Linked DNA regions of Homo sapiens. The protein of the gene in region 1 purifies or fractionates together with the protein of each later gene. This does not show direct contact. Each region holds a gene or a part of one and is shown in the gene's direction. Other genes may lie near its edges. The genes, in order: PLS3, TALDO1, WARS1, DNAJC7, FLNC, CAST and CKAP5.

The links.
Region 2: the proteins of PLS3 (region 1) and TALDO1 fractionate together in Homo sapiens (co-fractionation; one large-scale study listed by BioGRID). This does not show direct contact.
Region 3: the proteins of PLS3 (region 1) and WARS1 fractionate together in Homo sapiens (co-fractionation; one large-scale study listed by BioGRID). This does not show direct contact.
Region 4: the proteins of PLS3 (region 1) and DNAJC7 fractionate together in Homo sapiens (co-fractionation; one large-scale study listed by BioGRID). This does not show direct contact.
Region 5: the proteins of PLS3 (region 1) and FLNC fractionate together in Homo sapiens (co-fractionation; one large-scale study listed by BioGRID). This does not show direct contact.
Region 6: the proteins of PLS3 (region 1) and CAST fractionate together in Homo sapiens (co-fractionation; one large-scale study listed by BioGRID). This does not show direct contact.
Region 7: the proteins of PLS3 (region 1) and CKAP5 fractionate together in Homo sapiens (co-fractionation; one large-scale study listed by BioGRID). This does not show direct contact.

The regions. Positions count from the first base shown.
Region 1 is NC_000023.11:115,634,174-115,637,673, forward strand, and holds part of PLS3 (plastin-3), read left to right. Parts: intron 1-707; coding exon 708-873; intron 874-2,662; coding exon 2,663-2,805; intron 2,806-3,500. UniProt on the Homo sapiens protein: Actin-bundling protein.
Region 2 is NC_000011.10:753,964-757,463, forward strand, and holds part of TALDO1 (transaldolase), read left to right. Parts: intron 1-1,915; coding exon 1,916-2,039; intron 2,040-3,500. UniProt on the Homo sapiens protein: Catalyzes the rate-limiting step of the non-oxidative phase in the pentose phosphate pathway. Catalyzes the reversible conversion of sedheptulose-7-phosphate and D-glyceraldehyde 3-phosphate into erythrose-4-phosphate and beta-D-fructose 6-phosphate.
Region 3 is NC_000014.9:100,365,348-100,368,847, reverse strand, and holds part of WARS1 (tryptophan--tRNA ligase, cytoplasmic), read left to right. Parts: intron 1-1,804; exon of another isoform or gene 1,805-2,260; intron 2,261-3,500. UniProt on the Homo sapiens protein: Catalyzes the attachment of tryptophan to tRNA(Trp) in a two-step reaction: tryptophan is first activated by ATP to form Trp-AMP and then transferred to the acceptor end of the tRNA(Trp).
Region 4 is NC_000017.11:41,982,940-41,986,439, reverse strand, and holds part of DNAJC7 (dnaJ homolog subfamily C member 7), read left to right. Parts: intron 1-532; exon of another isoform or gene 533-2,803; coding exon 2,804-2,877; intron 2,878-3,500. UniProt on the Homo sapiens protein: Acts as a co-chaperone regulating the molecular chaperones HSP70 and HSP90 in folding of steroid receptors, such as the glucocorticoid receptor and the progesterone receptor.
Region 5 is NC_000007.14:128,840,406-128,843,905, forward strand, and holds part of FLNC (filamin-C), read left to right. Parts: intron 1-142; coding exon 143-269; intron 270-428; coding exon 429-565; intron 566-764; coding exon 765-958; intron 959-1,048; coding exon 1,049-1,162; intron 1,163-1,825; coding exon 1,826-1,969; intron 1,970-2,169; coding exon 2,170-2,293; intron 2,294-2,388; coding exon 2,389-2,549; intron 2,550-2,823; coding exon 2,824-2,914; intron 2,915-3,002; coding exon 3,003-3,172; intron 3,173-3,390; coding exon 3,391-3,500.
Region 6 is NC_000005.10:96,665,376-96,668,875, forward strand, and holds part of CAST (calpastatin), read left to right. Parts: intron 1-3,500.
Region 7 is NC_000011.10:46,759,281-46,762,780, reverse strand, and holds part of CKAP5 (cytoskeleton-associated protein 5), read left to right. Parts: intron 1-18; coding exon 19-154; intron 155-281; exon of another isoform or gene 282-392; intron 393-587; coding exon 588-781; intron 782-1,996; coding exon 1,997-2,169; intron 2,170-3,338; coding exon 3,339-3,500. UniProt on the Homo sapiens protein: Binds to the plus end of microtubules and regulates microtubule dynamics and microtubule organization. Acts as a processive microtubule polymerase. Promotes cytoplasmic microtubule nucleation and elongation. Plays a major role in organizing spindle poles.

The DNA.
Region 1 (3,500 bases):
CAATCCTTGTAAAAACTGTTGAGTGTGGGATTGTTATCCAGATTATACAGACAGAACTGGGACTCAGAAAGGTTTCTGAGCTTGCCTGAGATTAATGTTGGAACTGAGGTTCAAATCCCATTCTAATTTCAAAGCCCCATGTTCTTTTCATTTCATAATGTGTTCAAGCACTACAGAGATAAGCAGAAGTATATAAGCTCTTAATTAACTGGCGTGCTTAAGAAATGGAGCATTTTTTTTTCTATCAAGTGAATATTAGATTATTAGCAAAATTCCCTCAGAGAAGAGCACCTCTTGGGATGTGGACATTGATAACTTCTAAAACTCTTTTGGGCATATGCAGTACTGTTGGTCTCTCACCCATTTAGGCATTTTTGGAATTATAACACTTTACTCACATGGATATATTTACTGTGGTACTCAGCCTTTTCATTTAGTGCCAGCATACTTCAAAAGGTACCAAATAAAAATACAAAGTTAACTTCTCATGAGATTCTGCAAAAGGCAATAGCAATAAGGCTGAAATTTGTCTTAGCTAGGCTTTCTAACACAAAACTCTGGAATTTGTTTTTTGTGACACATATATGGATGAAATTAATACAGGGTATTAATTTCCTCATTGAATGTTATTTTCAGTGAAGGGAGAAAGTAGACTGCTAAAAAATGGAAAGGTCAAGAAGCAAGTGTGTAATTTGGCTGTCTTGCAGGAAAACTTGAACTTGGCACTGAACTCTGCTTCTGCCATTGGGTGTCATGTTGTGAACATTGGTGCAGAAGATTTGAGGGCTGGGAAACCTCATCTGGTTTTGGGACTGCTTTGGCAGATCATTAAGATCGGTTTGTTCGCTGACATTGAATTAAGCAGGAATGAAGGTAATGGAACACAGTCATTCTGGCAGTTGTTTATTGGTTATTTTTTTCTAGTCATGCAGACTTTCGTGCTCTCACTTAATGGAGGTGATTAAATGGTGGTAACTAGAATGAACATAAGGTAATGCTATAGAGTTATTCAGGAAAATAGCCTAATTACATGACTCTCTTCTTTACTAGTAATTCACATTTGTCTGGCACTTTACAATTCATTTTGCAATAATGACACAAAAGCACAGAGAGATTAAGGAGCTTTCCTGAAGTCCTCAAACTTGATTATCTATTTTTTTCTGTTCTGCCTACACAACTTCTACCCCGTTGCCACCCTCAGCTCCACCATTTTGCACCATCTTCTTTTTTGGAGACAGGGTCTCACTCTGTCACCCAGGCTGGAGCGCAGTGGCACAATCAGCCTGGCTAACATGGTGAAACCCCGTTTCTACTAAAAATACAAAAAATTAGCCAGGCGAGGTGGCACGTGCCTGTAGTCCCAGCTTCTCCGGAGGCTGAGGCAGGAGAATTGCTTGAACCCGGAAGGCGGAGGTTGCAGTGAGCTGAGATTGTGCCATTGCACTCCAGCCTGGGCGAAAGAGTGAGACTCTGTCTCAAAAAAAAAAAAAAAAAAAGAAAGAAAGAAAAAAAAAGAGAGAAAATGTAAGATTGCAACCGGGTGTGTTGGACCATGCCTGTAATCCCAGCACTTTGGGAGGCCGAGACAGGTGGATCACTTGAGGCCAGGAGTTGGAGACCACCCTGGCTAACATGGCGGAACCCCGTCTCTACAAACAATAGAAAAGTTACCTGGGCGTGGTGGCATGTGCCTGTAGTCCCAGCTAGTCAGGAGGCTGAGGCAGGAGAATCGCTTGAACCTGGGAGGCAGAGGTTGCAGCGAGCCGAGATCATGGAGGCAGAGGTTGCAGTGAGCCGAGATCACGCCACTGCACTCCAGCCTGGTCAATAGTGCGAGACTCTCTCAAAAGAAAGAAAAGAAAAAGAAAATATAAGGATGAATTATATTTCTGTTAAAATAGGATTGAGCCTTCAAGAGTTAATTGATTAATTTTACTTAAATACAAATACCACCGTGTTTCTAGACTACTTTAATCAAAAGGTTAAGTAAAAGATTCCCAAATTGTAAACATCTTTCCCCCAAATCCCTGACTTTTTTTTTTTTTTTTTTTGAGACGGAGTCTCGCTCTGTTGCCCAGGCTGGAGTGCAGTGGTGCGATCTTAGCTCACTGCAAGCTCCACCTCCCGGGTTCACGCCATTCTCCTGCCTCAGCCTCCCAAGTAGCTGGGACTACAGGCGCCCGCCACCACGCCCGGCTAATTTTTTGAATTTTTAGTAGAGATGGGGTTTCAGCGTGTTAGCCAGGATGGTCTTGATCTCCTGACCTCGTGATCCGCCCGCCTCGGCCTCCCAAAGTGCTGGGATTACAGGCGTGAGCCACTGCACCCAGACCCAAATCCTTGACTTTAGAAGTGTTAAATAAGAACAACTTATACAAACATATGACATAATGTGAAGCTTGCATTAAGCTTAAAGGCCATAACCTCATTTGGTATTTGAAATGTGAAGAATAACAGAGAAAAGAATAAATTGTAGTATTATGTTATTATATCTGTTATATATTTATCTTTTTTAGTAGATTATGAGTATCTTGAAACTAGGAACTATGTCATAGTAGTTTTTGCACCTCTATTACTTAACAGTGTCAAAAGACTGAATGAACTTGGCATGACCATTATTGTGTCATATAATAACTGTGGGATTTTTTTTTTTTTCTTCTAGCCTTGGCTGCTTTACTCCGAGATGGTGAGACTTTGGAGGAACTTATGAAATTGTCTCCAGAAGAGCTTCTGCTTAGATGGGCAAACTTTCATTTGGAAAACTCGGGCTGGCAAAAAATTAACAACTTTAGTGCTGACATCAAGGTAACTGTTGAAAGAATCACAACATTTTGGGGGGATATAATAGCTGGAAGATTTCATCCCAGCTTAACAGAGAGAAAATCCTAACACTGTATCACCAAGCCTTGTTGTCTCTTGGCCCTGAAGGTAGATTTTAGAAGAGTAATAGAGCCAGATAAGGTACATTAGCACCTATGTTTTATTTTGTGGGAAAAGGTAAAAATATTATGCTAATTTATCATATTATAATGCTAATTTGTTATATCCTGCCTATTGGTAAACATGGAGTATTAAAGAATAGGACATGACTATTCTATTCTTAACTGCCTTTCCCAAGCCTCAGTGTACCTGTTAGTAAACACACCTAGAAGAGATAGGAAGGGCCTCATGATTTCCTCTTCACCTTTTTTATTTGGCTTCTCTCCTGTCATTTTATCCTACCTTTAGTTGTGAGTTCCTCGAGGATAGCAATGAGCTCTTATTTATGTCTGTGTATCCTACCTCAGCCCCTGCTCCAGGGCCCTCCTACTAAAGCCAACTTAAAACATAGTATGTGGCATATACAAGTCCCTCATATTTCTTGCATTGAATTGAATTTTTTTTTCACTCACTGTTTATCATGAGCAGTGGGGGAAAACTAACAATGGAGGAAGACATTTATTACATGTTGCCTTTGGCTTCTCATGCAGAGGGCCAACATTACCATAGCAAACATTGTG
Region 2 (3,500 bases), on another chromosome or scaffold:
TTGGTTACTCTGAAGAAAAAAACTTTTTTATTTTTTTTTGCAACAGAGTCTTGCTCCATTGCCCAGGCTGTAGTGCAGTGGCACAATCTCGGCTCACTGCAACCTCCACCTCCCGGGTCCAAGTGATTTTCCTGCCACAGCCTCCCGAGTAGCTGGGATTATAGGCATGCACCACCACGCCTGGCTAATTTTTATATTTTTAGTAGGGACAGGGTTTCGCCGTGTTAGCCAGGCTGGTCTCGAACTCCTGACCTCAAGTGATCCACCCCCGTTGGCCTCCCAAAGTGCTGGGATTACAGGTGTGAGCCACTGTGCCCAGCCACTGAGTAGCATTTTATGACTGGGTTGATTAAAGCAGAGAATGTCAGCTTTATAAAAGGGACCACCAGTACAATTTGAACAAAAACTTGGGACATTGTCAAAGTTGTCCACTCCGACTAAAAGGATTCTTAGGTCAGGTTTTGTCAAGTTACCTGCAGAAGCTACTGAATGCGATATTTATTTATTTGTTTGCTTATTTATTTATGAAACAGAGTCTCACTCTGTCACCCAGGCTGGAGTGCAGTGGTGCAATCTCAGCTCATTGCAACCTCCACCTCCTGGGTTCAAGCGATTCTCTTGCCTCAGCCTCCTGAGTAGCTGGGATTACGGGCATGTGTCACCACACCCAGCTCATTTTTGTATTTTTAGTAGAGACTGGGTTTCACCATTTTGGCCAGGCTGGTTTCAAACTCCTGACCTCAGGCGATCCACCAGCCTCAGCCTCCCAAAATGCTGGGATTACAGGCATGAGCCACTGCACCCGGCCTGAATTTATTTTTTTAAGAGATAGGGTCTTGCTCTCTGGCCCAGGTGGGAGTGTAGTGGCATGATCATGGCTCACTGCAGTCTCAACCTCCTGGGCTCAAGCGATCCTCCTGCCTCAGCCTCTTGAGTAGCTGACGCTACAGGCATGCACTACCACACCTGGCTAATTTAGTCTTTCTATGAAACCTAAAAAGAATGATTGGTGAGTGATAGCAGTGGATAAAATTAGTCTTAAAGTTGCAGCAGTGCGGTTCAGCAACTATTAGATAAACTGGTTTCAGGTTAGAGGCCGCTTCAGCAACTAGGCTTGCAGGTAATAATTTTTGGAGCAATGCTGTGTGTCCTGAGTGCTTTTCCCCTTGGCCTTTTTTTTTTTTTTTTTTTTTTTTTTTGAGATGGAGTCTCACTCTGTCACCCATGCTGGAGTGCAGTGGCGCGATCTCGGCTCACTGCAAGCTCCGCCTACTGGATTCAAGCCATTCTCCTGCCTCAGCCTCCCGAGTAGCTGGGACTACAGGTGCCGACCACCACACCCAGCTAGTTTTTTGTATTTTTAGTAGAGACGGGGTTTCACCGTGTTAGCCAGGATGGTCTTGATCTCCTGACCTCGTGATCCACCCGCTTCAGCCTCCCAAAGTGCTGGGATTACAGGCGTGGGCCGCCGCGCCCAGCTCCCCTTGGCTTCTTGACTCTGTTGCAGCTGGGTATGGTGATAATGACCCAGTCCATAAGATCAGCGTTCACATGTGGCTCATGACTAGACCGCGCGCCTCCTTGTGGTGGTACGGCAGTGGGATGCACATTTTCCTTTGACCAGCGTTCTCCCAGCTGTCGCACCGCTCACTCCCATGCTGTTACAGGTCACCTCTTGCAGGGGCATATTTGATCGCTGGGCACTTAGTGTTTGTTGTTCCATCATTATGCAAACAGCCGCCTCTTGATGAACCTTCAGTGACCCAGAAGAAGGTGTGAGAAGTGTGGCTGGACCCCGCTTTCGGAAATGCTCTGGACTCCCCTAACGTCCTGGGGAATTACAGGGTTCCTTCACATGTTTCCAGTTGGAAGCAAGTACTCCACTTACTTTGGCTTTTGAAAACTATTTCCCTAGCCATCGACGAGTACAAGCCCCAGGATGCTACCACCAACCCGTCCCTGATCCTGGCCGCAGCACAGATGCCCGCTTACCAGGAGCTGGTGGAGGAGGCGATTGCCTATGGCCGGAAGCTGGGCGGGTGAGTGCCTGGACTCGGGAGGGTCCCAGCTAGGCCCTCGTGCTAGTCTAGTTGGCCTTGCTTCCCTCCCTAACTGAATTTTAGTTCTCAAACACCATGAACTCAAGGGGGGAAAAAAACCCTATCTTTTTGCCTATTTTTGTTTATTGAAGTGTAATCTGCATGAAGTAACCTGCACCTGTGGTAAATGAGCAGTTCAGAGAGTTTTGCCAATGTGTGTACCCTGTAAATACCACCCCAGTCAAGATGCAGAGCACTTGCAGACCCCCACAGGCCCCTCCTCCCCTCCTGTAGTCAGTCTCCCCAGCTCTGGTAACACTTACCTTCTGGCTGTCATTTTATTTTTTACTTTTCAGACGGAGTCTCGCTGTGTCACCCAGGCTGGAGTATAGTGGAGCAATCTTGGCTCACTACAACTTCCGCCTCCCTGGTGCAAGCAATTCTCCTGCCTCAGCTTCCCAATTAGCTGGGCTTACAGGTGTGTGCCACCACTCCTGGCTCATTTTTGTATTTTTTTTTTTTTTTTTTTTGAGACAGAGTTTTGCTTTTGTTGTCCAGGCTGGAGTGCACTGGCACAATCTCGGCTCACCGCAACCTCTGCCTCCCAGATTCAAGCGATTCTCCTGCCTCAGCCTGCCGAGCAGCTGGGATTACAGGCATGCGCCATCACACCTGGCTATAATTTTTGTATTTTTGGTGGAGACAGGGTTTCACCATGTTGGCCAGGCCGGTCTCGAACTTCTTACCTCAAGTGATCCACCTGCCTTGGCCTCCCACAGTGCTCGGATTACAGACGTGAGCCACCGTGCCTGGCTTTTTAATTTTTTAATAGCTTTTATAACTCCCAGAATGTTCTCTGGTACCTGTTTGCAGTAGCTCCCCACTCCCTTACCCAACCAAGCAACTGTAGAGCCCTCTTCATGCCTGTGGCTTTGCATATTTTAGATGTCATTTTAGATTCTCTTCAGGGTAATAATTCAAAGCTTGAAGATGGTGCCGAGCAGGCAACGTGGGCACCACACAGGAGCAGGTCCCTCTCTGGTACTGGCTTTGCTTAGGTCCAGGTGGCTGGTGAGTGGCTCCCCTGACCATGTTGTGACAGCCACTCTGGACACTGAGTCTGACCCTCTCCTCTCTCTTCTTAGCTCCCTTTTCCTCATCTCGTGGTGTTGCACCCCTGTGGCATCAGTGAGGCCTTGGTGCTCCTGTTATTGGGTGACATTGGTGCCTTTGCTTGGCTGGGTGATCAACAGATGAGCCCTGCACCCATGTCCAGATGGCCCCAAATTTTTTTTTTTTTTTTTTTTTGAGATAGAGTTTGGCTCTGTCACCTAGGCTGGAGTGCAGTGTCACAATCTCAGCTCACTGCAGCCTCTACATCCTAGGCTCAAGCCAGCCTCCCACCTCAGCCTCCCAAGTAGCTGGGACTACAGGTGCACGCCACCACACCTGGCTAATATT
Region 3 (3,500 bases), on another chromosome or scaffold:
CTGGGATTACAGGCATGCACCACCACACCCAGCTAATTTTGTATTTTTAGTAGAGATGGGGGTTTCACCACGTTGGTCAGGCTGGTCTCAAACCCCTGACCTCAGGTGATCTGTCCACCTTGGCCTCCCAAAGTGCTGGGATTACCAGCATGAGCCACCACGCCAGCCTTGGTTATAGTTTTAAATGTATTTTTCCTTTATCAACATTGGGATGCCTGTGGTCTAAAGAGTCAGGGGTTCTCAAAGCCTTTGTGAAATACAGTGGCCCTCCAGCCCACCTCTCCCTATTTCCTGCTCAATTCTTTTAGCCGATCTTTTGGTTATGTACTCCCCATATCTGTAAATATTCTGCTTATCATATTGTTCCTTGTTGATTTTCAAGTTGGGGTCTTTCAGGTGGAAATGAAGCATTCGTACCTTCACAACCACTTCCCGTCCAGGCAGTCTCCCCATCTGTATTGCAGTTGTAGTTAGGTCAGTATCTGTACACTGACATTATTATGACCATGGAAATAGACGTGGACAGCTGAACCATCACGGATAGAATGAGTACTCTAACTTTCTCGCCCAGCTTTTGTTTTCTCTGGAGTTAATATTTGTCTTAATATCTGTTTGCTTGACTTTTTTATGTCAATGATACTAATGATAATGTATCTCCAAGCCCTTTCCCTGTCCAGTGAATCTCCTTTCAACACACATCAACTAGTCTATCAAGTTCATCTTCTTGAGGCGATCTCTCCCAAAACCTTCTGCCTGCTTCCCTCTGAAGTGGGGGCTCTTGCTTCCTACACTGCCCATCTTGGCGTCTTTCTTCACTGTCGACCCAAGGGGTTCTTTCACCCCTGTCGATTGGGTGCCCCGTTTCCTGCTCCTGCATCTTTATTCCTCTTTGCTTTACTCTTTGGGCAGAGCAAATCTTCCAATTGTTTCTGAAAAAAATATTGCAAAGGAAATATTTCTAGGGGGATCTTGCCCATCTGAAAGCGTATTTATTTTACCTAAAACATGATTGATAGCCAGGCTGGGTGTAGGGTTCTAGCATGGAAGTGATTTCCCCTGGAAATGCTGAAGCCACTGCTCTATTGGCACCTAGCTTCTGGGCTTGCTGCAGAGAAGTCAGTTGCCATTCCTTTGTTTTTTCTTTTTGGAAGTTAGCAGGATCTTCTTTGTTCCCGTGTTCTGAAATTTCATGGGATGCAGGTTCAGTATGCCTTTCTTTTTTTTTTTTTTTTTTTTTTTGCCACCCCACCCCCGCCCCCCGAGATGGAATCTCACTCTTTCACCCAGGCTGGAGTGTGGTGGCACAATCTCGACTCACCGCAACCTCCGCCTCCTGGGTTCAAGCAGTTCTCCTGTCTTAGCCTCCCAAGTAGCTGGGATTACAGGCATCCGCCACCATACCAGGCTAATTTTTGTATTTTTAGTAGAGACGGGGTTTCACTATATTAGCCAGGCTGATCTCAAACTCCTGACCTCATGATCTGCCCACCTCGGCCTCCGAAAGTGCTGGGATTACAGGCGTGAGCCACCACACTCAGCCTGCCTTTTAGACTAGAAACTCATGGCCGTTAATTCTCAGAAATCATGATTTCTTTGATCTCTTCTGTTTTCTCTCTTCACAGACTTTTTTTTTTAATTCAGAGACTGTTTCTCTGATTTTCTAACCCTCCTATTGTTTTCCATTTCTGCTATCATTTTTAACTTCCAGGAGCATGTATGCTCCCTGAAGTTTCCTCACAGCACTCTGCCCTGACTCATAGGTACAGTACCACCCTTTTCTCTCTGAGATTTTTTTTTTTAATCTTATTTTACTGTATTAAATCTTACTAATATTCTGTAAGGGACAAACCAGACGAGTAGGCTACAGTGAAGAAATCTTATTTTGGAGAGTTAAGAAACCACTATGATACTTCCAGGTATTATCTTCAGTGATGCTTCTTATCTTTATTCAGGGACTCCAGGTAATATTCAGCTCCTACAGCTACCACAAATGCAGCAAATCCCCATTTGAATCCTTTAAACAATACATCAAAAAAGGAAACACTCTTTGCAAAGCCACCCATGTATCTTCAAGCTTCATTGTGGCCCCACGGATCCCTTAGCCCTTTTTCAGCCAGCTTCTTCTGGATAGTTTCTAATGGTGTCCCTTCTGTCTTCCGTTGTCTGTAATCTAGAAGTTCCATTTTACGATGTCCATGCTCATGTCCATGTCCATGGGCCATGTCTGACAGCAATCTGACCTCTCAGGACACTCAACTCTCTCTCTCTGAGATCTTAATGGTAGTTTTCCATATGTCCTCTACATCCTTTATAACCTCAGTTTCTTCCATCTTAATTTGTTTTCTACCTGCCTTTCATATTAGAGGCAATTCTCAACTGTTTGGTGTTTCTTGGCTATTTGCTGGTGTTTTGGGGGGTGCACTGAAAGCTGCTGGATGCACTCTTCATTGGGGAAGAGCTTATCAACATAGGTTCCACTTCCTGGAGAGTGACCAGGCTGCTCCCCTTTTGTTGGGGAATCTTTCGTGTCAAGGTCTTTAGATCTTTTCTTTAAAGTTAAGTGAGATTCCCCAGAGAAAGCTCCCCCAGTCCACTGTTCAGAGGGGGTGAGTCCCGCTGCCAGAGTTCTACGGCTGAGTGGGAGAGAAGGGCTGGGCTGTGGGATCCTTCCCCGAAGCTCCCTATTCTCTGTGTGCTGCCAGTGCCCCAACTGTGCAGACTGCCCCCAGTCTAGGCACCTGTAACTCTGTCCTCTCTTGACATGAAACCTTGGAATGGAGGGGAAACTGTGACACTCCCTTGGCCGAGGGGAGAGGGATTCTCAATAACTGCTTCTTGAAGAGACTTCAACCAGCGCTCCTGTTTTCATAACCCGCTTTCCTGCCCCCACTCCTGTAAGTGCGCAAGGTCACTAAGGCCCGAACCTTTGGGTGATTCCGTAACAGTGTACACTCGGTCACCTTCCAGTATTTCCATGATGTCTTAGCATTTGTTTTTCTCTCATGCTGTTAGGCACTGATCATTCATCAGCTTTCTGGCTTCTGAAACCTTGTTGCTGTCATCCTCTTCTTGTTTCCTTTGTCCTTGTGGGATTATGCTTTAAAAAAAAAAAAAAAAAAGAAGATCTCTGCTTTTGTTGTAGTAGATTTCAGAAATATCATCATCAATACGCATCTTTAACTAGAACATAAGCATTTCATTTCCTTCTGGGGTGACTCCACTCCGGCTTCTCCATGACTTCCATCACTTTTTTTTTTTTTTTTTTTTTGAGGCTGAGTCTCACTCTGTCGCCCAGGCTGGAGTGCACTGGCACAGTCTTGGCTCACTACAACCTCTGCCTCCTGAGTTCGAGCGATTCTCCTGCCCTGGCCTCGTAAGTAGCTGGGACTGCAGGCGCCCGCCACCACACCCGGCTAATTTTTGTATTTTTAGTAGAGAGGGGGTCTTGCCATGTTGGCCAGGCTAATCTTGAACTCCTGATCTCAGGTGATCCGCCCGCC
Region 4 (3,500 bases), on another chromosome or scaffold:
ATGCCAGGGGATGGGAAGAGAAGAGAAAAATCGCTTTGTTTTATTTTTTGGGATGGAGTCTCGCTATGTCGCTCGGGATGGAGTCTCGCTATGTCGCTCAGGCTGGAGTGCAGTAGCACCGTACTGGCTCACTGCAACCTCCACCTCCTGAGTTCAAGCGAATTTCCTGCTTCAGCCTCCGAAGTAGCTGAGATTACCGGCGCATGTCACCACACCCAGCAAATTTTTGTATTTTTATTGGAGATGGGGTTTCATCATGTTGGCCAGGCTGTTCTCAAACTCCTGATGACAAGTGATCTGCCTGTCTTGGCCTCCCAAAGTTCTGGAATTACCAGCAGGTGTGAGCCACCGCGCCCGGCCTTTTTTTTTTTTTTTTTTTTTTTTTTTTTTTTAAGCAAGCCCCCAACACCATAGAAAATTCTTGATTTGCTCGGAGGATAATTGGATGAAGGATTATTTTCTTCTTTGTTTATGTGCAAGAAATGAAAATAAGGAATTGCTTTGATCAGACAACTTCTTATCTTTGTGGTAGAAACAGAACTGCCCTTCTTGGAGTGGCTCTGCCTCTGAGATCACTACAGGGGAGACAGCATGCCCTGTTCAGCTGGCTGAATATTTGGCAACAATCTCCTGAAGCAGCTGGAATTGACAAGAAGTACTGGAGATTAGCTCGGGCCAAACCCTTACATCTGGCCTGACTACTGCTGCAGTCTGCCTCAACTTACCCCTAAAGCTGGGGAGATGCCACCCACCCACATCTTTGCTACACATGCCATCATGAGCTAGAGTTCACCCTTTCTCCTTAAAGCCCTATTTACTTTTCTACTTCAACTTTAAAACAAAATTAAAATGTGAGGATATCCCTGAATTTTAAAAAGCATGAAGTAAAAATGCAAATTAGTATAGTTTGTTTAATACATTACATATAGACCTAAAGAAAGTTCATCAGGGTTAATCATTTGTCACATCATTCTATACCCAGGGCTATCAGCTATCAATTTTCCTTTTTTTTTTTTTTTTAATTCAGGATCCAGCTCTGTCACCCAGGCTGGAGTGCAGTATCAAAGTATCATTTCTCTTACTTCAAATTATTACATTTTATTCTGTACATTGATTCTGAACTCCTAATATAATATTTATGTCCTGTATTTGCAGGCCATTGGTTTTTTTAAAGTCATAAATCAAAATGATGCCAGAAAATCAAAGATGCCCAAGATGTTGGGCTTCTCTTTTGCCAGCCACATTGGTAGCACTCTCCTGCCCTGGCCTCCAAGCTGGTGGGGATCTGTGATGTTTGTGAAAATGGGCTTATGCCAGGCGCAGTGGCTCACGCCTATAATCCCAGCACTTTGGGAGGCCGAGGCGGGCAGATCGGTTCAGGTCAGGAGATCGAGACCAGCCTGGCCAACATGGTGAAACCCCATCTCTACTAAAAATACAAAAAATTAGCCAGGTGTGGTGGCACATGCCTGTAATCCCAGCTACTCAGGAGGCTGAGGCAGGAGAATCACTTGAAACCTGGGAGGCGGAGGTTGCAGTGAGCAGAGATCGTGCCATTACACTCCAGCCTGGGCTACAGAGTGAGACTCTGTGTCAAAAAAAAAAAAGAAAGAAAATGGGCTTGTGTGGTAGCAGGTAAGAAATTGAATCTCTGTTGTACAGCAGCTAGCTGTACTGCATGATCACTTCCCATTCCCCAGCTGACAGTGGCTGTCTCTGGAACTCCTACCACAGTCTTCAATTGGTAGGCCAGCCCTGGTGCCAGTGATTTTATCTGGGCATGGAAAATGCCACTTGCTTCTGTGGAAGAGACACTTAAAAGATCTGGCAGTCGGCCGGGTGCGGTGGCTCACGCCTATAATCCCAACACTCTGGGAGGTCAAGGCAGGCGGATCACGAGGTCAGGAGATGGAGACCATCCTGGCTAACACGGTGAAACCCTGTCTCTACTAAAAAAAAAAATAAAAAATTAGCTGGGCGAGGTGGCGGGCGCCTGTAGTCCCAGCTACTCTGGAGGCTGAGGCAGGAGAATGGCGTGAACCCAGGAGGCGGAGCTTGCAGTGATCCGAGATCACACCACTGCACTGCAGTCTGGGCAACAGAGCGAGACTCCATCTCAAAAAAAAAAAAAAAAAAAAAAGATCTCGCAATCATCCTGTCAAGCTTGATTCCTCCGATCTTGGGCCAAGGGCCCCTCCTTTCTTTTGTGCTACTGAAATAGAAGCAAACCTGTGTTTAGAGTTCCCTTTTCTGTCTCATTTACCTGCATCTCTCATTGATTGGTCTTAGTGGAGGGATTTGCCAGCAGCTGCCACGTTGAACTTGATCCTTTTAGTGGCTCACTAATCCCACCTCTATTCTGGATTGTAGCTAGTCCTGCATGTTTATGGCACTATAGGTTTCAAAGCTCTTTCATACCCATTTATTCACTTGATAATTTTTCTCTTGTGTGTTTCAACCCAAAGTAATCAAGTAGATCCCTTCACATTGTCTTTTCTAAGGCAGTCCAGTACCTCTTAGGTGGCTGTGTGTCAGAAGGAACTTTTTCCTCTTGATTACTTTCTGCTCAAAGCTGAACATCACTTTGCTGGTTGGATGCAAGTGCCATGCGACCTCTCTTTTTATTTCCTTGAGGACTTGTTAGCTAATTTTCTCTCACTGCTAGATTAAGGGCTCCTGTTTCTGAAGCATCTTACCAGAAGTGTGTGTCTCTTGCTTGAGCCATGCCTCTTGCCCTAGAGTGATCCTGAGAACCACTGCTATTTATGTCTTAGTGCTGTATTGCCTTGTATTTCCTTCTCAGTTACATGGACACAGAACAGTATGAAGAAGCAGTACGAGACTATGAAAAAGTATACCAGACAGAGAAAACAAAAGGTAAGTTTAAAAGCATTTGTTTTTTAGGGAACTGTGTGGACTTCGTAGGCCATAAATCTGTACACAAGGTAGTTTGATTCAGGGATCAGGGATCTACCTAGAACTTATTTGATCACCAGCCAGAAAGAAGTGAACAAAGGCTGGGCGTGGTGGCTCACGCCTGTAATCCCCAGCACTTTGGGAGGCTGAGGCAGGCAGATCACCTGAGATCAGGAGTTGGAGACCAGACTGGCCAACATGGTGAAACCCCATCTCTACTGAAAATACAAAAAATTGTGGGTATGGTGGTATACGCCTGTAATCCCAGCCACTCAGGAGGCTGGGGCACGAGAATTCCTTGAACCCAGGAGGCGGAGGTTGCAGTGAGCTAAGATTGCGCGACTATACTCCAGCCTGGGTGACGGAGCGAGACTTCATCTCAAAAACAAAAACAAAAAAAAGAAAAAAAAAGTGAACAGATATCTTGGGTTGGGGCATGAGGCACCTATTTTCTGGTTCCAGATCCTCCCTGTCGTTTTCATTTCATTTTTTGTGTGGTGAGGCTAAAGTGAGGAACCTAAGTCTGGGTAGATTTTCTTTTTTCTTTTTCTTTTTTTTTTTTTTAAGATGGAGTCCTGCTCTGT
Region 5 (3,500 bases), on another chromosome or scaffold:
CTGCCCTGAGTTGCAGCACTGCTCACTACAGCACTGCCCTCGGGCTGGGTCGGGGTCCCAATGGCTCCTTGAGGGGATTGAGGAGCTGGGACTTCAAGGATATTGATCTGCCTTCTTCCCCACCCTGCCCCCATCTCCTCAGAGGGCACAGAGGAGCCAGTGAAGGTGCGGGAGGCTGGGGATGGTGTGTTCGAGTGCGAGTACTACCCGGTGGTGCCTGGGAAGTATGTGGTGACCATCACGTGGGGCGGCTACGCCATCCCTCGCAGGTGAGTACCTTGCGCCCCCCATGCTGTCCTGTCTAGGCCATCACAGGGAGGGACGAGGGGCACTGGGCTGCGAGGGAGTTTGAGGGGAGATGGAGTTTGGGCTGCGAGGGACTTTGGGGGGCACTTCCTGGCATGGACACCAGCTCCCTCTCTGCCCAGCCCCTTTGAGGTACAGGTGAGCCCAGAGGCAGGAGTGCAAAAGGTCCGGGCCTGGGGTCCTGGTTTGGAGACTGGCCAGGTGGGCAAGTCAGCCGATTTTGTGGTGGAAGCCATTGGCACCGAGGTGGGGACACTGGGTAAGTGGCTGGGGGGCAGGAGGAGGGAGTGCTGCGGGGGAGGGCAGCAGGGGACACTGTGGGTAATGGGTGCAGTGCGCATGCTGGGGAGCGCTGGGGTGAGCAGGGAGATAGGACATGAGGGCAGCTAGAGGGGAGCTGGGGGACGGAAGGGTCTTGCCTGATGCTGGATCCCCGACCCTCCCCCACCTTGCCCCAGGCTTCTCCATCGAGGGGCCCTCACAAGCCAAGATCGAATGTGACGACAAGGGGGATGGCTCCTGCGATGTGCGGTACTGGCCCACGGAGCCTGGGGAGTACGCTGTGCACGTCATCTGTGACGATGAGGACATCCGAGACTCACCCTTCATTGCCCACATCCTGCCCGCCCCACCTGACTGCTTCCCAGATAAGGTGTGGTCCCAGCTCACACACACCTGCCCCGGGGGTGGGGCAAGCTGGTTCTCCTCCCCTCCCCAACTCAGCCTTCTTCCCTCCGCACAGGTGAAGGCCTTTGGGCCTGGCCTGGAGCCTACCGGCTGCATCGTGGACAAGCCCGCTGAGTTCACCATTGATGCTCGTGCAGCTGGCAAGGGAGACCTGAAGCTCTATGCCCAGGTAGGTCATTGTCCAGTCTCTGCTGCCCTTACTACCCATGGCAGGGACCCTGGAAGGCAGGGCCAGGCCAGAGGCAGAGGCCTCCCAGCAGGAAATGACAGCATCACAGAAGATCAGGCAGGACTGATACTCATGGGCCCATCAGTACCATGGAAAATTTTAAATTTTGTGTTTTCTTAACGATGATAACCTAAAAACGTATTTTACCAAAGAGTCATTTTTGTGCTAATTTGTAATTGAAAGATTGTTTCATTGAATAAGACACTGGTTTCCCAAGTCAGTTTCTCAGACTGGTGTCCATTGACCCCTAGAGGTTAATGAACATATTCTTGAGGATCTAAGAGGGTGATTCTTCTTTGAAAGGCTCATGATTCAGTTTTAGGAACATAAATTTAGCCCACACTCTTCCTGTCCAACACATTTCAGAGTTGAGGAAACCTAGGCTGGGAGAGCAAGCCATACAGATGGCCTTGAGTCAGGCTCCCAGGGTGGGCTCTGGCCGCCAGAGCACGTGGCCCTGGGCTCTGGTGGCCTCAGTGGCTGGTGTGGGGGCGGGAGTGCCAGTGTTGGGGGTGGGAAAGGAGGCGCTGGGTTCACCTGCGGCCAGCAGAGGGCGCTCTGCAGAGGCCACAGCTATGAACTTTGCTTGGGTGATGCCCACAGGACGCCGACGGCTGTCCCATCGACATCAAGGTGATCCCCAACGGCGACGGCACCTTCCGCTGCTCCTACGTGCCCACCAAGCCCATTAAGCACACCATCATCATCTCCTGGGGAGGCGTAAACGTGCCCAAGAGCCCCTTCCGGGTGCGTCCTCCCGGCCTGCCCCGTGCCCACCACCAGGGGTCCCTGAGGGAGGGCGGAACCCTCGCTGGAGTCCCTGTTGTCCCTGGGCTCAGGCTGGGACTGAGGCTTGGGCTGGTGCCACTGAGGCTGGGCCGGGTGCGCTGGGCAGGAGGATGAGCCTTGAGGGAGGGCACCACGCTGAGCTGCGACCCCTCCCGCAGGTGAACGTGGGCGAGGGCAGCCACCCCGAGCGGGTAAAGGTGTACGGCCCCGGAGTGGAGAAGACAGGCCTCAAGGCCAATGAGCCCACCTACTTCACGGTGGACTGCAGCGAGGCGGGGCAAGGTGCGCCCAGCCGGAAGGGGTGGGTCTGGGAGGGGGCGGGGGTGAGTCGAGTCGGGGGCTGAGCCCAACTCACAGCAGTGCCCGCTTCTCTGCAGGCGACGTGAGCATCGGCATCAAGTGCGCCCCAGGCGTGGTGGGCCCTGCAGAGGCTGACATTGACTTCGACATCATCAAGAATGACAACGACACCTTCACCGTCAAGTACACGCCACCAGGGGCGGGCCGCTACACCATCATGGTGCTGTTTGCCAACCAGGTACCTAAGCTCCTGGGTACTCACAGCGACATGCACCTGCCAGCTCCAGAAGGCAGCTGGAGATGCTGTCACTGGGAACAGGGAGGGATGATTCCGCAGACATGGTGGAGCCCTACCTGTGTGAGGCAGGGTGCCTCAGAGGAAGCAAAGGGGGCCCTTTTGGAGGCTGCCCCTGTCCATGCTGGGTCCCCTGGGTGTGTCCTGAGCCAGCATCTAGCTGAGAGCAGGGGTGTGTTCCCCTCGAGAGCCCTGACTGAGCCTCCTCCACATCCAGGAGATCCCCGCCAGCCCCTTCCACATCAAGGTGGACCCATCCCACGATGCCAGCAAAGTCAAGGCCGAGGGCCCTGGGCTGAATCGCACAGGTGAGTGTCTGGGCAGGGGCTGGGACTGGCTCGAGGTTGGGGTTAGGTGGCTGCCAGGCCCTCACCACATCTCTGGGTGGGTCCTCAGGTGTGGAAGTCGGGAAGCCCACCCACTTCACGGTGCTGACCAAGGGAGCCGGCAAGGCCAAGCTGGATGTGCAGTTTGCAGGGACAGCCAAGGGCGAGGTTGTGCGGGACTTTGAGATCATAGACAACCATGACTACTCCTACACTGTCAAGTACACCGCTGTCCAGCAGGTGCGCTCTGCCCCTCCCATGCTACCGCCCGGCCGGCCCGCCAGAGCCCTGGGTCTCCCTCCTCCAGTCCCATGGGACCAGTTCTGGATCCTCCACGCCTTTCCTGCCTCCTGCCCTCACTCTCATGGTGGATCTGAGCTTCAGAGCCCATATTCACCACCAGGATGTTGTAGGACCTTGCCTTATATCCAGTTCTGACCTACCATTGTACCCAACAGGGCAACATGGCAGTGACAGTGACTTATGGCGGGGACCCTGTCCCCAAGAGCCCCTTTGTGGTGAATGTGGCACCCCCGCTGGACCTCAGCAAAATCAAAGTTCAGGGCCT
Region 6 (3,500 bases), on another chromosome or scaffold:
TCTTTTTTATACTAATTCTTCAAAATCCAATGTATATTTACATTAACAGCACATCTCAATTCACACTTGCCACATTTCAAGAGTGTTCAGTAGCCACAAGCAGCTAGGGGCTATAGTAATGGACAGTATAGCGCTAGACCATGGACTCCTAAACTTTCTTTTTTTCCTTTGGTGATAGGTGGGTGGTCACAGACAATTTTGAGAATCAAATGGGATTTATGGACTGCTTTCCCACAACAAAATACATACAAACATACACAAAATGCAGTTTCCAATATAGCTTCAGGGAGTTCAGAGATTTCCAAAAGACCACCCATAAATCCCCCAAAGGTCCATGGAGCCAGTTTATAACACACACACACACACATACACACACACACACACATATACATACACACATACAAACATATACAATCCAATATACATATATGTGCATATTTATATATAATACACACATGCATGTATAATACATATGTAGACATCTAGATTTATGTGTGTATGTATCTACAGATATAAATACAGATGTCTGTCTGTATGTACACATGCATGTATAATACATATATAGACAGATTTATATGCATATATATCTACAGATATAAACACAGATATCGGTATATACACAGACATCTCAGAATACTTCAGGTAAATCCTATAATTAAAATATCTTTGTGGAATCCTTTAAGTACTGAAAAGGTTATAAATGATCTAACTTTCAAAATTTAGGCAGAATAAAATGAAATAATTAAAAGACATGTCTCAGATGTGTTCGTTTAACAGCATGCCACCTATAAAGCTAGTCAGTGAAACGTTGCAATGTATATTTCCACATTGAATGCCATCAATCCTATTGACTTTATCTTCTGAAAAATGTGGTTGTAGTAAACACACACACACACACACACACCACACAACTCTGCAGAGCTAAATTTGAAGAACATCTATGAGCTATGTAATGATCAAGCATGAACGAAGGTTAATTTGGCCCACACCAGTCATCACATTCCTGAATCATCAGTTGATTCTATTAGACTATGTTAATTAAAGGTGTTTCTTAGCCTAATTAGATCCATAGACCTAGTGACAGCATGATCAAGGAGCCCAGTCATTTGGGAGGCCCCATCATTGCTGCCAGCCTGGGAAGAATGTTGCAAGCCTTCCATGGCAGGACAGATCACTTGCTCACAGTGAATTTTAGAACTAAGGAAGGCAAATAACAGGGCCTGCAAAAAGGGCATAGACTTTAGGGTAATGGAAACATAGAGGTCAAATACAGCCTTTCTCTTTCAGCTGACAGTCTTTGAATTAGTTCGCGCCCCATTGTGTATAAGCCTTTTAAACCAAGAGTAGCATCTGATAATATCTTTCTTTAAATCAGTTTTGGCACTTCCCAGAAGGTTAATTATATTCTACAGGTGCCTTTTAAAGAATGCTATAGCCTTCTGGGGGTGGGAACAGTGGGGGGTCATGTGAGATTCCATGTGGATAGGTGGGTAATTAGTTCTGACTAGATTGTCTCAGCAGATACAAAACTACTCTAAGTAGTACATCATTTTTCCCCCTTGAGGTATTTTTAAGATGAAAATCATATTAACAGATACTAAAGTTCTGTTCTTTGAGTTGTCTCATTTTCCTTTCATGAAAACATACCCAGAAAGCTTTACAGCCACCATAAAGGCGGGGGGCAGGGGGAAGTATATCAGATGTCTTCCAGTTAAGAAAAATGCAAGAACAGTTCCATCCAATAAACACTGTTCATGTAAGTTATCTCCTCAGATGGAAAAGTCAGTTAACTCAGGAAGAAAAAGGTCTAAAGTTATAGTTTCCTAAAAATGTATGAAATTTGTTTTGGTTGTAGGAAACTCATAGAACATAAGAATAAATTTGGTAAAGCTCAAAGATGTTCACAGTTGTTTATTGTCCACCTGCTGTGTGTCAGTTTTGTGCAGAGTGCGGTGGACACAAAAAAATCGTGCAGTGGTCTGTGCCTGGCCTCCTCTTGCATTTCTCATAGATAAAACTACAAGTTCATTCTCATGACAACTGCTGTGGCAACAAAGCAACTATTTAAATTCTCATGATACCCCCTTTGACTTAAGAAAAACTCATCCAGCCTTACTTCAGGTGAATCCCAGGAGCTAATCTATGACAGGCAATAGATGCCACCTCTGAAAATTGGACACAAAGGGCCTGTACCTTTACAGTGTCATCTTGTCATGTCCACTGAAATCTTAAAATGTTAGAAAAAACGAACACTTGGGGTTCAGTGAAAACAGAGGGATTTCAGAATTACAGCTATGCAGTTAATCCTTAATATATATTAAGCATTAGTACACAGAATAAGAGAAGAGTATAATGAGGCTGGGTGCGGTTGGCTCACGCCTGTAATCCCAGCACTTTGGGAGGCTGAGGCGGATGGATCACAAGGTCAGGAGTTCAAGACCAGCCTGGCCAAGATGGTGAAACCCCATCTCTACTAAAAATACAAAAAAATTAGCTGGGCGTGGTGGCAGGCGCCTGTAATTCCAGCTACTCAGGAGGCTGAGGCAGGAGAATGGCGTGAACCCGCGAGGCGGAGCTTGCAGTAAGCCGAGATTGCACCACTGCACTCCAGCCCGGGCGACAGAGCAAGACTCCGTCTCAATAAATAAATGAATAAATAAATAAATAAGTATAATGACCTCTTCATATACCAATCATTGGTGTCAATAATTGTCAACATTGTCCTAATCTTGTTTTATCTGTTAACCGTCACAGCTACCAGCACAGACACGCGTGCACACACACACACACACACACACCCTTTCAACATGTTTTAAAGCATGGGAATTGCAAATATAAGTCATCCTTGTAACCAAATTGCTGTAGTTTGTTGGGAAAATGAATTCTTTAACCCCCATGTAGTTTATCTCCTTGAGTGTTATACGAAGATGTGAGAATAATATATAATACACAGTCATGAGATAGACAAAGTACTAAACAAAAACTTAATCAGATGAACCTGATAAGGTTCCTTTGTACTTTAGGGAAAGTAAAATACTAAATTCTTCTGTTCTAATGTTTACAGCCTTAGAAAATGAAACCCTCAAACCTTAACTCACTGGCTTCTAATTCACCACAGTCAGATTGCCAGGGAAAAAGAAGGGAGTGAAATAATTTTAATTGTGTTCTTAAAATGAACAAGGCAATGAACCAGGTGCCTCACTAATGTCAACTCTTTTCATAAATTTGCCAGCCCCTGGGATAGATACCATTAGCCCTATTTTACAAAAAGAAACTGAAAAATTAAATTATCTGCCCAAGGTCACGGTCATATAGCCTTACAAATCTAGGCTGTTTCTGCCCTATCAGAGTTTATTGCAGTCAACTAACAGACAGAAATGACTCTGAGTATTTAAAACAAAGGGAGTGTAACATAGGGAATTGGTTACCCAGGTAAAAAAAAAAAAGGCTGGGAAGCCGTCAGGGGAGGGTGAGGCAACCCAGAGATTAGAAATTGCAGG
Region 7 (3,500 bases), on another chromosome or scaffold:
ATTTTCCTTATCGACTAGGTTGGAGAACCAAAGGATGTCATTCGTAAAGATGTTCGTGCCATCCTGAACCGGATGTGCCTTGTCTACCCAGCTAGCAAGATGTTTCCCTTTATCATGGAAGGAACCAAATCCAAAAACTCTAAGCAGAGAGCAGGTGAAGCAAACAGTTTAAACTGAGATGTGAATCTCTGCAGCAGTAGCCTATAGAAGAAATAGTTTATAGATGAACAAATAAATTTCTCCAGTGCCTATGTAGTTGATTCCAACCTCCTGATTTAGACTGTGAGAGTGATGAGTTGCACACTGGTGGAGCCATGGTATCAGGTGATACAGGCACCACTCAGTATCACCCTGGTGACAAAATCAAGTGCACAGGGGCCATCTGACTCACAGGCATCTCTTCCTTTCAGGAGCACTTGCTGAAATACCATTTTTTCACTGATAAAAGGCAGTAAACAAAAAATCCTAGGCAGAGCCAGAGTAAGGTTTTAGTCCTTCATATATGCCAAGGGAAATTTCTCTAGTAAGGATAAGTCTCTGTCCCAAATATGTGTTGTCTCATTAATCTAGCCTTTCTCCCCCATCAGAGTGCCTGGAAGAGCTGGGATGTCTGGTTGAGTCCTATGGCATGAATGTTTGCCAACCAACCCCAGGAAAAGCCTTAAAGGAAATAGCTGTTCACATAGGAGACCGTGACAATGCTGTACGCAATGCTGCACTCAACACCATTGTAACGGTGTACAATGTACATGGGGATCAGGTGTTCAAACTGATTGGAAATGTGAGTGACTTCTCTGAACACTGTCAGCATGTCGTGAAAAGAATTGCAAGATCTCCTAGGTGTTAGGTTTCCTGTCCTCTCAACTGTAGCTAAGTTTTTACTACTTTTTAGTCAACTCAACCTATCAATGTGTCCTAGAATCCAGATAGACCCTTGAGGTGTCTCTGATTAGGCTGTTTTAATGGAAATCAAGTTTTCTTTTCTGAGCATTCTATTCATAGCAAATTTGCTTTAGAAATGAGTGCTATTTTTGAATCAAGAAATCTGAGCTAGTCCCGGGTTTAAATTCTGCCTGGCAGTCTGCTCTGTAATTTTTACTGCATCGAGTTTTTGGTTAAAAAGTGCTTATTTGTGTATAGTGTGGATGCTAGTATCTGTCAGATCACATCTTGCGCTACAGCCGTGAGCCAGTTTTTCACTCACATTAGGTTCTGCCTCTGACCTCTTATTTCGTTTGAGTGAGTCTGGACCTCCGTCTTCAGTTACCTCATAGTGTCACCATGTATTTACACAGGGCTTAAATATGTTTACTTATATTTTCTAATTAAATTCTCACTACTACCCAGTGAAGAATATAAAGCAGTTGGGAATTTTACAGATGACCAAAAATGAAGTTTCTTGCCCATAGTCACACAGCTAGATAGTGGTGACAAAACAAAAAATGAGGAAGCTTCATTTAATTTTTGACCTTTTTATTTGTAGTTACTAATTGGCTTTCTTTTTTTTATCGTTTCTTTTTTTTTTTTTTTTTGAGACAGGGTCTTGCTCTGTCACCTAGGTTGGAGTGCAGTGGTGTGATCATGGTTCACCGCAGCCTCGACCTCCCAGGCTCAAGTGATCCTCTGACTTCAGCCTCCTGAGTAGCAAGGACTACAGGCGCGTGCCACCACACCCAGCTTATTTTTATACTTTATGTATAGATGGGGTTTCACCATGTTGCCCAAGCTGGTGTCAAACTCCTGGGCTCAAGTGATCCTCCTGCTTTGGCCTCCCAAAGTGCTGGGATTACATGCATGAGCCACTGTGCCCAGCCCCTCTCCTTCTTTCATATCTCCTCTTCCTATAGCAGCTAGGCAGGTATTAATAGTAGTTGATTTTGAAATGTGGTGCTTTGAAAGTAAACATGTCCTAACATAGAAGGTTCTATTTGTTTTGATATGAAAATAGATATTATTGTGTTATCCAGTTAGGTTTCTAAATTTGGCCTCTTTACAGCTTTCTGAAAAGGATATGAGCATGCTCGAGGAGAGGATTAAGCGGTCAGCAAAGAGACCCTCTGCTGCACCAATAAAACAGGTGGAAGAGAAACCTCAGCGTGCACAGAACATAAGCTCCAATGCCAACATGTTACGCAAGGGACCAGCTGAGGACATGTCTTCCAAACTCAAGTATGTAGATAGAGATACTTGTCTGAGAGCATCTCCATGGCCTTTGCCTTGTGTGCTCACAGCCTGTCCTGTAACATAATCTTGAGTTCTTGTAGCCATTATCATGCATGACAGAGTGTCTGGGTAAATGTATTGTAACCAAATGTTTGATTCTTCAGTCTTCATTGTCTTTGTCTTTGTCTCAAAACCACTTCTAAATGGTCTTGTGCCTTCTTTCACTGCTTTTCCGTGGACAGAATTATGTATCGCACTTATAGGATGTAAGTACTGCCTGCTAATTTCTCATTAGCAGGGCTCTTATATCTTTCTAACTTCTGACTTGGATTCATCCCCTCTGGAGGGTGACTAGCTTAGAGTTTATAATCAGGGTAGAGGGTGTCCATAAGTACCCCATGAATCAAGTCTTCCACAAAAGTTCAATGTCATGTGGCTAAAATACTGATTCACTTTCTTCTTTGTGTTATACTTGGTTGTGCTTAGTTTCCTATTCTTGAGATAAGGCTAATTAAAATACATGCAACCCAAAATTGGCTTAGGGACTCAAAATACTGCCTCCTAAGCAAGACAGCTCTATTTTGGGTTGTGTCATGAGTATAATTTTAACGAACTTGAATTTGGAAACTTTGAATCCCTATTTCTTGGATGTAAAGCTGGCCCTGACCTGTCAAGAGTGAATATTCTAAAAAGGGGTGACTGGTGGTCTCACAAAATATAAAATGTGCTGAACACGGCATGGAATGGTACTTATGATTAGCAAAATTAAAGCACTGGTTAATTTGGTGGAAAAGAACCAGCCAGTCTAAATTTTTCTTATATATTTGCTCATAAGTAGTGAACTTTGAGTCAATACAAATATATTTTATTGTTTTCTGCCCCTTCAGGAATAGAAATACAAGGTTTGTTGGCTTTAGTGAACTAGAACAAATACTTATAACTTGGCAGGTAATGTAAGTACAAATTAAAGTTATCTGCCCTCTTAGGATATTCATGAACCAATGTTGTTACCTATTAAAGGCACTTGCTTAGACTCAGGGACTTAAATCATTCAGGGGGGCTGAAACCAGAAGTTGAACATCTGTCCTGAAGCTTTGGGGCAACTGACAGTGCTACTCTTGCCCTTTGGTTAAGAAGTCTCTTTTAGTTCAGGAGCCTCCTTTTGCTTCCCTTAGCCAAGCCCGAAGCATGAGTGGGCATCCTGAGGCAGCCCAGATGGTCCGCCGAGAATTCCAGCTGGATCTAGATGAGATTGAGAATGACAATGGTACAGTCCGATGTGAAATGCCAGAACTTGTTCAGCACAAACTGGATGACATTTTTGAGCCAGTCCTTAT